2 linked regions of the Homo sapiens genome follow. The protein of the gene in region 1 binds, or shares a complex with, the protein of each later gene. Each region holds a gene or a part of one and is shown on either strand. Other genes may lie near its edges. A codon is read from its position in the direction of its gene.

Region 1 (2,743 bases):
TTTCCTCGGGCACCAAAGTAGGTTCCCTTTGTTGGAACAATTACACTGGCCATGCCATAATGTTGAATAAAACTCTCTTCTTATGAGGTTCTCTCTTAACTTCTTTGGAATTAGTAAAAGCTGACAATTTGTTTCTAGCTATTAGAATCCCATACAAAGTTTATAGTTTTCGAGCAACGTTTCAAGTATCTCTGTCATTAAGACATAGTTCATCTTAAAGTGGGGATGGTGGCCAAACTTTGTACATTGAGAATATTGTTTTGCTTTAGAAAACAAGCCTGCATAAATATTATACATTACAGAAGTCATGGACTCTGTCGGAGAACATAATCACGTATACGAAAAATACATTACATAGCTTTTCTATGAAAAATGGGCATTTAGCAATGCAGAGTAAGAGCGCTCTAAAGGACAGAAAAAGATGTAAATGGGGAAGATTTATATCAAGGCATTAAATTTTGGTTTTAAAATGAATATAAGCTGAGACAAATAGGTACCAAGAAACTTCACCAGTTGGAAGGTTAATCTGTAGTGAAAAGTCTGTATCATACAATACTTTTAAAGAACATTTTTATTACTTTCAAGTTTATACAGTAATCTGGCACAAGCTATTGCCAGCATTCCTGCCAAGTACAAATGCTTGGACCTCCCCTTAATCAACAGATAAAATACATAACTTACATTTAAGGGGAGTGGATACCTCAAAGTGCTTAAGTAAAAATTTGTTCTCTTTAATAGTTTGAACTGTCCCTTGTTAGTCGTGTCTAAAACATTGACCTGAATAATGAGAAATCACAAGCTAATGTTTTACTTATTCCTTATATGGTAAGAGACTACCTTTTAAAGCACCATTTTCCATTTGGCATTTCACCAAGGTCTAATGTCCCTGGAATTAGTTTTTTTGTTTTGCCTTTTGAATATCGATAGGTGTTCATCTGAATTAAACTACGTTTAGTTTGATGGCTTCCTGCCTCCAAATTGGCAACAGTGTACCTCACTTTGTATGGGAGCTATCAGGATCTCCATAGGTTGCAAAGTAGATGACCATTACCTTGGGGTTGGGGCAAATCAGTGAACAAGTCTCGGCAAGGTACTGGCATTTGTATTTTTAAAAAAATCTCTAGCCATTTTGTTCTTGGTGTAAAAGTAGAATGGCTGAAGTATGGCAGCTGAGTAATAACTGTTCTTCTTAGCATGATGTAGTGCTTAGCATGTCTCTATGGGTCCAACTTTGAACATTATTAAGAACTGGTTTGTCTTGTTTTGCTATAACTGATATGAAAAATGGTTTGGGTGGGGCATGGTGGCTCACACTCTTACAGAGGCAGAGGCAGGAGGATAGCTTGAGCCCAGGATTTCGAGACCTGCCCAGGCAATATAACACCATTTGCCAAAAAAAAAAAAAAAAAAAGAAAAAAGTGGTTTGAATATTCATATTTCTTCCTGGCCATTACTGATTTTCAATTAATTTATGCATAAATGAGACCCAAACTATCACTAATTTTCAGCTATATGAATTGATAGCCACTTGACATCAGTGAAAGGTACAGTAGGGAGTAGATGAAATTGTATTTTTAATGAAAAGGCTTTGATGGGAGATTCAAGATTTTTGGTTTTTTTTTTTTTTTTTGAGACAGGGTCTTGCCCTGTCACCCAGGCTCGAGTGCACTGGAGTGATCACAGCTCACTGGCCTCAAGTGATCCTCCTGCCTTGGCCCCTTAAGTGCCAGGGTTACAGGCATGAGCTACCATGCCTGGCAGAAATTCAAGATTTGGATAAACTTACTTCTTTGCCAAGCCTGTTCTTCAAGTTATTCAGAACTGGGTGTATACCTTGTCCTCATATGTATCTTGTCCCTGCTGTCTTTTAGGTTAGCAAGGTGTATGAATACTTTTAAGTTTTGTTTGTTCTTTTCCTCGTGGTATCAGTGAAATACTGATCTATTCTCTGGCTAGGGTCAATTTACAAAATTGCCATGGAACTGAGCAAAAGGCCCACGTGGGATAAAAATCACTCACCATCGACGCCACCAGTATTTTTCAAGTTATGGCTTTTGAAGTATAACAAATTTCAGTAAACAAAATCAAAAGAAAAAATTCCTCTGCGTACAACAAAGAAGCACCTGTTATATTTTGAATGCATTCTTCATGTTGCCAGCTTTCTAAACTTGTTTTTTTGATGCCTCAACAGACAGAAGTGAAAATTATATGCCACTCTTAAGTACATCCAGGTTCTCCTCTACATATTCCCAATATGGAATGCTGGCTAGCAATCATGGCACTCTCTCAGAAACCAGCCACTGGAAGTTAAAACTTCTGGATTTCAAAAGCTAGTACAGGCTGCTAAATTTAACAAAGGAACAAACCTTCATAAATGGTACAAACTACCTGCCCAACACACTCTTCTATTTTCCAGACCCTTTAATATTGAGTAGTCTAGTCTTGGATTGACTATGGTGGGTTAGGTCTAATCTAAGTATCTTAATAGCTATCTAGGGATAATGAATAAAATTAAATACAACTGGTACCTCAAGTATCATAAGAGAATAAATTTATGAAGACAAGCAGACCAAAGCAACTCAAGATTTTCTACACCTGACTACTGTAGCTGTAACTTCAAATAATGTGTTACCTATGAAACTTATTATGTACGAATTAGTTCTTAAAGACAGAAATGATGGAAACATGTAAAAAAAAAAAAACAACAGTAAGTGTTCAAACAGATCCCTGTTTTGTTATAAAG
Region 2 (3,541 bases), on another chromosome or scaffold:
ATAAGGTTAGGACTCTCTTTTTGAGACAGGGTCTCACTCTGTCACCCAGGCTGGAGTGCAGCGGCACAATCATGGCTTACTGCAGCCTCTACCTCCTGGACTCAAGCAATCCTCTGGCTTCAGCCTCCTGAGTAGCTGGAACAACAGATGAGCACAACCATGCCCAGCTAATTTTTATTTTTTGTAGAGACCGGATTGCCATGTTGCCCAGGCTGGTCTCAAACCTCTGGGCTCAAACAATCCTCCTGCCTTAGCCTCCCAAAATGCTGAGATTACAGGAATGAGTCACTGCACTCAGCCCAGGACTATTTGTTTTCATATTCCTCCTCACACCCAGTTTAGTGTCTGGCATGTAGATGCTCAGTGAATGATTGATTTGGGTAGTTTTGGTTCTTTATACGGGTCTTCAGGTTAGTCCCAATGTACTGGCATGGAGCTAGTTACTTGAGCAGGTCTTCACAAAGGTCTGAGTAGCAGGTGATAAAAGGGGTTGTGAAGTCTGGACTCCTAACTTAAGTGGTGGAGATGCTAAAAGAGAAACAAAGGCAGCAGAGTTGCTGAGGGTAGGGAGTATGGCATTTATTAACCCTGTGTTTCCCCCGTCACTGGTCACTGCTCTTGACTCGTAGAACAACAGGTACAGAACTGCAAGGGATCATCCCCAGCTCCGTGATCACCAGATCCACAAGCTCTGGGGGAGTCACATCATAGACTAGATTCAACAACCGTAGGGATGCGTGGTTCTGCCAGTTAGCCAGCGCAACATGTTCTCCCCGCTTACATTGCAGATCATCAGGGTCATCTGCAATGGAAGGCGTACCCATTATGTTCTTTCAGAAAAGAAGTTCTAGTTTATCCGCCCCTCTCCCTCCCTCTCAAGTCTTCACAGGTAGCTGGAGGCTTCTCTTTTGCCTCCTTACCTAGCTCATTAGAGACAAAGGCATCAGTCTGCACACGCTCACAGAACTTGTATGTTTCACAGCAAACCAGCACTGGTACATTATGGGCTCGAGCCACCAGGGCTAACTGTGCTGTCCCTACCCGTGACATCACAGACCCGTTGGCCAAGAGTGCATGAGCTCCCAATAGCACCTTGGAAACCTGTTTCACAGGAGAAGAGGAAGAAAAAAATGTCATTGTTGTATCAATGCAAAATAAGGTCCCCTACTTACAGGACAGCAACATTAAGACAAGTAATAAATCTCAACACCTGTGAAAAGAAGGGAAAGAAACAAAAACAGACAACAAGTAATAAATCTTTTTTTTTTTTTTCTTTGAGATGAAGTTCTGCTCTTGTTGCCCAGGCTGGAGTGCAATGGCGCGATCTCGGCTCACCACAACCTCTGCCTCCTGGGTTCAAGTGATTCTCCTGCCTCAGCCTCCCGAGTAGCTGGGATTACAGGCATGCACCACCACTCCCAGCTGATTTGTTGTATTTTTATATTTTTAGTAGAGACGGGGTTTCTCCACGTTGGTCAGGCTGGTCTCGAACTCCCAACCTCAGGTGATCTGCCCGCCTCAGCCACCCAAAGTGCCAGGATAACAGGCGTGAGCCACTGAGTCCGGCAATTAATAAATCCTTTTTTTTTTTTTTTTTGAGATGGAGTCTCGCTCTGTCGCCCAGGCTGGAGTGCAGTGGCATGATCTCGGCTCACTGCAAGCTCTGCCTCCTGGGTTCACGCCATTCTCCTGACTCAGCCTCCAGATTAGCTGGGACTACAGGCGCCCACCACCACGCCCGGCTAATTTTTTGTATTTTTAGTAGAGACGGGGTTTCACTGTGTTAGCCAGGATGATTGTGAACTCCTGACCTCGTGAACTGCCCTCCTCGGCCTCCCAAAGTGCTGGAATTACAGGCTTGAGCCACTGTGCCCGGCCTAATAAATCTTAATGATGGCTTTTCTTCTGTGAAAACACCTGACCACTGACCCACCAAATCTCCCACAGGAAAAGTAAACTTTGAAGTTACTTTTGTCTTGTTCCCTCTTCCTGGTTGCTAGTTTAATGTAATGTTTTTGCAATAGCTAGACTGCTGTAATATACTGTCAGTGTTTTTCCAATTAAATAGAAACAGAGCTATATAATTATTTTTTTTGACACAGGGTTTCATTCTGTCACCCAGGCTGGAGTGCAGTGGTGCAATGACAGCTCACTGTAGCCTCAACCTCCTGGGCTCAAGCAGTCCTCTCACCTCAGCCTCCTAAGTAGCTGGAACTACATGCGCATGCCACCATGCCCGGGTGTGTGTGTGTGTGTGTGTGTTCAAGCAGTCCTCTCACCTCAGCCTCCTAAGTAGCTGTGTGTGTGTGTGTGTGTGTGCGTGCGCGCGCGCACGCACTCAAGCAGTCCTCTCACCTCAGCCTAAGTAGCTGGAACTACATGCGCATGCCACCATGCCCGGGGTGGGGGTGGGGTGGGGTGTGTGTGTGTGTGTGTGTGTGTGTGTGTGTGTGTGTGTGTGTGTACAGGGTCTCATTATGTTGAGCAGGCTGGTCTTGAACTCCTGGGCTCAAGTGATCCTCCTGCCTTAGTGCTGAGATTGCAGGCATTGAGCCATGGCACCAAGCCAGGGCTATATAATTCTAATATTTTTAAATAATTGTGGCTGGGCACAGTGGCTCATGCCTATGATCCCAGTACTTTGGGAGGCCGAGACAGGGGGAACTGCTTGAGCCCAGGAGTTCCAGCCTGGGCAATGTAGCGATATCCCATCTCTACAAGAAAAATAAAAAACTAGCTGGGCATGGTGGCACACACCAGTAGTCCCAGCTACTCAGAGGCGGAGGTGGGAAGATCACCTGAGCCCAGGAGGTCAAGACTGCAGTGAGCTGTGATCACGTCGCTGCACTCCATCCTTATCTCAAAACAAAAACAAAACTGTAACTTTGGGAAGGTGAGATTATGTCTATACTACTACACCTTTTCACCGCCAACTTTGGAGTCCTTTTCCTCTGTACTTACCTCTGGGAGCACATAGGAGGCTGCAGGAATCAGCAGGTAGGAGGCTGGGACACCAGCATGGACTAGAGAACGTAGTGTGTGCCTTCCTTCCAGCCATGGCCGGCTGTCCACCACTACCACCCGAAACCGCCGGCCCTCTGTCCAAGCCTCCTGAAGAATTCGTGATACCAGAGATGAGCTAGAGTGAATGAAGAGGAGGATTCAGTTATAAATGTCAGTAACTGATGACTAACTTATTCCCAAAGGCAAGTGGGTAGTCCCTTCTTCAGATCATTCCAACTCCCAATCTGCTCAGTCACAAGGTCTGGACCATACCATCCATATACCAGGATCACATCTCCATTACTGATCTTCTGGTAAGCAAAGCGTGAAATTGCCTGAGCTGCTAGCACAATCTTCTCTTGCACATACCGATCAATGGCTGCTCGAAGTTCTGACTTGGCCTAAATGGAGTAAAATCCTTAGTGAACAAGAAATGGACACTTTTATCCCTCTGATGATCATGCCAGGTGCTTGAATATGTGTATGATGACAAGCCTATAGAGGGCTCAGAGATGGCACAAGTCAGAATGGCCAAACC

The links. Proteins that work in one complex are often made in the same cells at the same time.
Region 2: the proteins of EIF2S1 (region 1) and EIF2B4 are in contact, whole or in part, in a cryo-EM structure (PDB 6O81), measured with the Homo sapiens proteins. Residues at the interface, in NP_004085.1 of Homo sapiens: Met30, Tyr33, Met45, Arg55, Arg57, Arg75, Glu79, Lys80, Tyr82; in NP_001029288.1 of Homo sapiens: Asn245, Glu246, Glu247, Arg250, Thr285, Ser520 (codon at 617), Ser521 (codon at 614), Asp522 (codon at 611).

Annotation. Positions count from the first base shown.
Region 1 is NC_000014.9:67,384,327-67,387,069, reverse strand, and holds the end of EIF2S1 (eukaryotic translation initiation factor 2 subunit 1), read right to left. Parts: 3' UTR 554-2,743; downstream 1-553. UniProt on the Homo sapiens protein: Member of the eIF2 complex that functions in the early steps of protein synthesis by forming a ternary complex with GTP and initiator tRNA. This complex binds to a 40S ribosomal subunit, followed by mRNA binding to form a 43S pre-initiation complex (43S PIC).
Region 2 is NC_000002.12:27,363,798-27,367,338, forward strand, and holds the end of EIF2B4 (translation initiation factor eIF2B subunit delta), read right to left. Parts: intron 3,405-3,541; coding exon 3,277-3,404; intron 3,140-3,276; coding exon 2,962-3,139; intron 2,088-2,961; exon of another isoform or gene 1,280-2,087; intron 1,102-1,279; coding exon 921-1,101; intron 803-920; coding exon 603-802; 3' UTR 555-602; downstream 1-554. UniProt on the Homo sapiens protein: Acts as a component of the translation initiation factor 2B (eIF2B) complex, which catalyzes the exchange of GDP for GTP on eukaryotic initiation factor 2 (eIF2) gamma subunit.